Linked DNA regions of Homo sapiens: region 1 is linked to region 2. Evidence: fine-mapped expression QTL. A gene starts in region 2. The other region holds a variant in brackets. All regions are shown on one strand. Distances are from middle to middle. Region 1 has its middle 17 kb from the start of C16orf87. Region 2 holds the start of VPS35 (VPS35 retromer complex component).

Evidence for each region. PIP is the estimated chance that this variant, and not a neighbour inherited with it, causes the effect. A credible set is the group of variants that fine-mapping cannot tell apart.
Region 1: its variant is the best candidate, but not a certain one, in a credible set for the expression of VPS35 in monocytes (TOPMed, PIP 0.55).

Annotation. Positions count from the first base shown.
Region 1 is chr16:46,846,712-46,849,731 of GRCh38, forward strand. No RefSeq gene overlaps it. Among named protein-coding and RNA genes, the nearest start is that of C16orf87, 17 kb to the left of the region's middle. The variant C/T (reference allele first, on the strand shown) is at 1,597.
Region 2 is chr16:46,688,119-46,690,618 of GRCh38, forward strand. VPS35 (VPS35 retromer complex component) reads right to left here and starts at 1,060. Exons shown (of 17, transcript NM_018206.6): 1 at 1,013-1,060. The coding sequence starts at 1,015. ORC6 (origin recognition complex subunit 6) reads left to right here and starts at 1,541. Exons shown (of 7, transcript NM_014321.4): 1 at 1,541-1,652. The coding sequence starts at 1,588. RefSeq lists enhancers at 531-1,228, 1,229-1,927, 2,165-2,244, 2,295-2,364 and silencers at 765-814, 965-1,204, 1,525-1,824.

The DNA.
Region 1 (3,020 bases), 160 kb after region 2:
GTCTCAGCTCACTGCAACCTCTGCCTCACAGGTTCAAGTGATTCTCCTGTCTCAACCTCCTGAGTAACTGGGATTACAGGTGCCTGCCACCACACCTGGATAATTATTGTATTTTTAGTAGAGACGGGGTTTCACCATGTTGGCCAGGCTGGTCTCGAACTCTTGACCTCAGGTGATCCACACCCCCCCCCGCCCCCGCCCCACGGCCTCTGGGATTACAGGCGTGAGCCGCCATGCCCGGCTTTTTTTTTTTTTTTTTTTTTGAGACTGGATTTCACTCTGTTGCCATGGCTGGAGTGCAGTGACATGATCTCAGCTCACTGCAGCCTTAATCTCCCAGGCTCAAGTGATCCTCCCACCTCAGCCCCCGCCCCAACCCCATCCCTCCAGCTGAGACCACAGGCCCGAGACACCATGCCCAGCTGATTTTTGTTTTTTGTTTGGTTGGCTGGGTTTTGGTAGAGATGGGCTCTCGCCATGTTGCCCAGACTGGTCTCGAACTCAAGCTCAAGCAATCCACGTGCCTAAGCCTCCCAAAGTGCTGGGATTACAGGCGCGTGGTTTAAACTACACTTCTTAAAGGGAGACACGTCAAAGAATGTGTGGACATCTTTTAAAACCACTACACTGGCTGAGGTCAGGTGGCCTCAGTTACTTAGAGCGTGGGCTTCCCCATAGGACTGCTTAAGTATCCTTTTAACATAGCAACTGTTCTTCTACAGGGCACATTTTCCATCAGAGAACGGGAGGGAATCCACAACATCTTTTATAACTGAACTTCAAAACTCACACTCTGTCATTTTTGCAATATCCTATTAGTTACACAGGTCACCCCAGTCAGTGTGGGAGGGGACTAAATAAGGGCATGTATCCCAGGAAGTAGGGATCGTCTTGGATGCCGGCTTTCATGGGTACTCAAATGAAACAATAATTCCATCAGTGCATGCTGGGGAGAGGTCCATAGAGGAAGTGACAGAGAGATGGGCCTTTGGGGTCCCACTGACCTGGAGAAAAATGAGAAGGATCTGTGTAGGTCATCTGTCCTTGACCTGAAGACAGAAAGAAAGAACCAGGTTGGGTGCCAAAGAGTCCACTTTTCACTGGTTTTTGATCCTGTTTCTAACTTTGCTCAAGATCTTTCATGCTTGCTATTAAAGTGACTGCAGGTGCTTCTAATCTCACACTATGCAATTAGACCTAGCAGGAGGTTCTTTAATAATAAGTACTTGATGAATGAACCAAAATGGATATTCAAAGCCACTTTTTGTTCTCTCTTGTAATTAGGACCTGAGCTTCCCCCAGAGATTGGGAGAAATGAGATGTAGCCTCCACCTCTACACCTGTCACTGTTAACATTCAGGACACAAAGCCCCTATCAATGAGCCTTTTAAGGCTTTTACATTTTTAGTGGGAGGAGAGGAACAGTAGGAGCCTTAGCAATCTTTAAAATATAAACATAACCACTTATCTTACAAAATAGATCCTAGGCCGGGTGTGGTGGCTCACACCTGTAATCCCAGCACTTTGGGAGGCCGAGGCAGGTGGATCACCTGAGGTCAGGAGTTTGAGACCAGCCTGGCCAACATGGTGAAACCC[C/T]GTCTCTACTAAAAATACAAAAATTAGCCAGGCATGCTGGTGCATGCCTGTAATCCCAGCTACTCGGGAGGCTGAGGCAGGAGAATCACTTGAACCTGGGAGGCAGAGGTTGCAGTGAGCCGAGATTGCGCCACTGCATGCCAGCCTGGGCGACAGAGCAAGACTCCATCTCAAAAAAAAAAAAGAAAAAGAAAATAGATCCTGAGTTATAAATTATATAAATTAGAGGGGTTTGTGTTCTTTCTTGTTTGTTTTTTCACCAGAAGCTTTGGGAATCATCACAATGCTACAAATGTGGTCATCGCTTGTTTATTCTTTTAATTTTTTTTCTACAAATTTTATATATTTGCACAAAGGAATCATCTTTAAATAACAACAGTAACAAAAATGAATACAAATAATTGTCCAGCTGGGAGCAGTGGGCTCACATCTGTAATCCTAACAGTTTGTGAGGCCAAGGCAGGAGAATTGCTTGAGCCCAGGAATTTGAGACCAGCCTGGGAAACATAATGAGACTTTGTCTCTACAAAATATAATAAAATTAGTCGGGCATGCACATCGAGGCTGCAGTGAGCTATGATCATGCCACTGCACTCCATTCTGGGCAACAGAGCAAGACTTCATCTCGAAAAAAAATAAAATAAATAAATAAATAAATAAATAAATAAATAAATAAATAAAACAAAACCCCCAAAACTGTCCAGATGAAGATAAAGAGTATGAGAAGCCTTATTTTTGGCTAGAAAGAGTGCTTTTCTTCTCCTCCTACAGAGCTAATAACACACTGGGTGGGCACATTCATTGTTGAAAAGCCACAGGCTCAAAGCAGCTCAGGAGGCAGCCTCCTTTGTAGCTGGGTAACTCTAGACAGCCCAAGCCAGCCACCACCCTCGCTGAGCACTGAACTCAGCCTGCTGCCTGCCCTGGGCACAGAGGAGTCTCCAGGAGTCCCACACCTTGCTTTGCCTCCTTTGCTTTTCCCTTTCATGCTATTTACTATTTATTGGGCATCTACTTTGCAGCTTGTCCTTTATATTACTTGTCGTTCTTTCTCTCAAACCCTGCAAAGTGGAATCATGAGCCCCATCTTACAGTTAAGGAACATGAAACTCAGAGAGTATATAAATCAGGAATCAGAAATTTTGTGAAATAAAAACTCAACTCAAAATGGCTTAAGCAAAAAGAGTATTTCCTGGCTCACATAACCAAAAGAGCCAAGAATCTGATGGGCTTCAGGCACAGCTGGATCTATGCACTCATGTGAGCCATCAGGGCCCCATTTCTCTCTCTGCCCCTTGTTTCTGTACCCCTTGCAGGTAGGGTCTTCCTTATTGGTGTTGGAGGGATGGCTGGAATAGCCAAATACACTACATTTCATTAAGTGTGGCAGCCATGAAAATGCTCCACTTGGATTTCTTTTCAAA
Region 2 (2,500 bases):
ATTTGTAAAACACTTAATCCTTTCTGGCATTAAGACATTTAAAGTGAAATCTGTTTCCAGGCTTACAGATTTACAGAAGCCTATCTACACAGAGTGAGTAAGGTAATTAAAGCGGACATACAGTATATACTCAAAAAATTTATTTACACAGTGCAGGCTATGTTAAACGCTAATAAAATGCAAGTGACAACTTGCCTTTGTGGGAACCAGACACAAAGATTCACATTTTGAGGAAGTTCAAGTTTACCGGCCAACAGCCACACCACGATTTGCTGCCGTCATAGACGGGCCCTAAGGAGAAGTACTGCTTCCAGCAAGTCAAATACTTGGATTTTATCAATGGCGAGACAAAAGAGGCAAGGTGCGCCCAATGCACAAATGCTAAAGTAAACAATCAGTCTCCTTTGCGACCGTCAGGATTAGAAGACAGCCTGAGTCCTTCCAGGAAATTCATGTAAGCAGGTCCCCAGAACTCGCTGACAAACACTGCAGCCGAAGGCGGGTATGAGGCCAAGAAAGGCCAAGGAATCACTGCGACCCCTCCAGGAGGGCGTGGGGACGGCCGAGCACAACTAGGCACAAAGGTAGAAACGCAACATCTGGGCGGGTCCCGGCGCCACCTCCGAGTCTCAGGGCCTCCACGCGCCCCGGGGGCCAGACGCTCAGACCTAGGACTACCGGTCCCCTCGTGGTAGGCAGGTGACCGATTCCACTTAAAGGAGGCCGCAGGCCTTCATGGACCCCAAAGCCTACATGCCAAGTCAACCCCACAGAGAGGCCGCCCCGTCTCTCAGCAACGGCCGCAGCCAAGAGCCGCCGCCCACCCCGGCCCGGATCAGCCTGCCCGCGGCCTTCCTCCTGCTGTCCCCTATCCCGCAGGCCAAATCGGGCTGGTCTTAATCCCGAACGGTCTGTGGGGCCCCTTCTCCACTCGCTGGAGTGCGGGGCGGTGGGAGAGAGCAGGGGCTACAAGGAGGGTCGACCCAGGTGCCACTGCCCCCTCAGCACTCACCATGGCGACTCCCCAGAGCCTGCAGCAAGCAGCACCCGCCCCGCGCGTAGCCTCCCGCGGTCATGTGACGCTGCGGCCCCTCCAAGCCCCGCCCTCTCTAGCCCCGCCCCCGGGCCCTACAGGCGGCTCATTGATTGGCCTACTTCTAGGAACCCGAGTCTCGCGTGCTTATTGGCCCTGTCACTTAACGCTAGATGGACGGACCTGAGCGCCAGCCAATCTCACCACAGCGTGCGAGAGTGGGCGGAGCAGTGCAGGGCAGTGGGGATCGCCCGGCGGCAGGCAGGAGACAACAGGAGGGAAAGGCAGTGTGTGATGAGTTTGTCAAGAAGGAATGGAAGGAGGGGGAGCCGACAAGTCCACGTTCACCGCATCTGCGTTGGCGATTGCGCTATTGATGCGCATGCGCAAAAGGAAGACCCTGATTGGTTTGTGGGACGGTCTCAACGTCCTGTCCTAACCAATCCAGATGCGCCGGGGGTGGGGCCTGGCTCTCACTGGCCGGTGCAGCCTTTGCGCGCGGGTTTCGTTGACCCGCGGCGTTCACGGGAATTGTTCGCTTTAGTGCCGGCGCCATGGGGTCGGAGCTGATCGGGCGCCTAGCCCCGCGCCTGGGCCTCGCCGAGCCCGACATGCTGAGGTGAGTTCGGCCGCGCAAGACCAGGGCTGGGCTTCCGCCTCGCGGCCCTGGGCCCTCAGGTGAGGCCCGCGCCCTTCCCAGGCGACGGGCGGCGGGGGAGTGACGGGGAGCGCTGGGGCCGGGCGGGGTTTAGGGCCTACTTCAAGAAAAACTTCTCGGCCGTGAGCTTGAATGAGATGGCAAGAAGGGCGATAGCAAACGGCGATGGCACACGTCCCTGGGAACAGCCAGCCCTGTCCGTGGGTAGAAAAATGAGCCAGGGAGAACTTTCCGTTCATTCCGCCAACGCCTACTGCAGTCGGGTTTATAGCGGGGAACCCGACAACGAGGCGCAGACCCCGCTGTCTGTAAGGGCGAGGACTGTGTAGACCTTAACCGGGCAATGCTCCTGAGCCACTGGGCTTGGGGTGGAGCGCGGCCTAGCGGCTGCCTTTAACACAAAGAAACAAACAAAACTCGGAAAAGCAGGCGCCGTTCCCGCTGAGGCCGGATTGATGGCAGATGCTAGGCGAGGAAAGATATGGCAAGAGCAGCCCAGGCAGGGGCGACAGCTCCTGTAAAAGCGTTGAGATGGGAAGCGGGATCCGGGGTTCGAAATAAAGCCATTGTAGCTAAAACGTGGAGCAGTCAGGCGAGGGAAGGCAAGGAAAACAGCACTTAAAAGATTTGAAGACAAACCTGCAGGACTCGGTAGTCATTTAGAACAGTGGTTCTCAAAATGTGGTTCCTGGACCAGCAACAGCCATATCATCTTGTCACTTGTTAGAAATACAAATTCTTGGGTCCCACCTCAAGCCTGCTGATCAGTAACTCGGCCTGGGACCCAGTAATTTGCAAGTCCCCAAGGT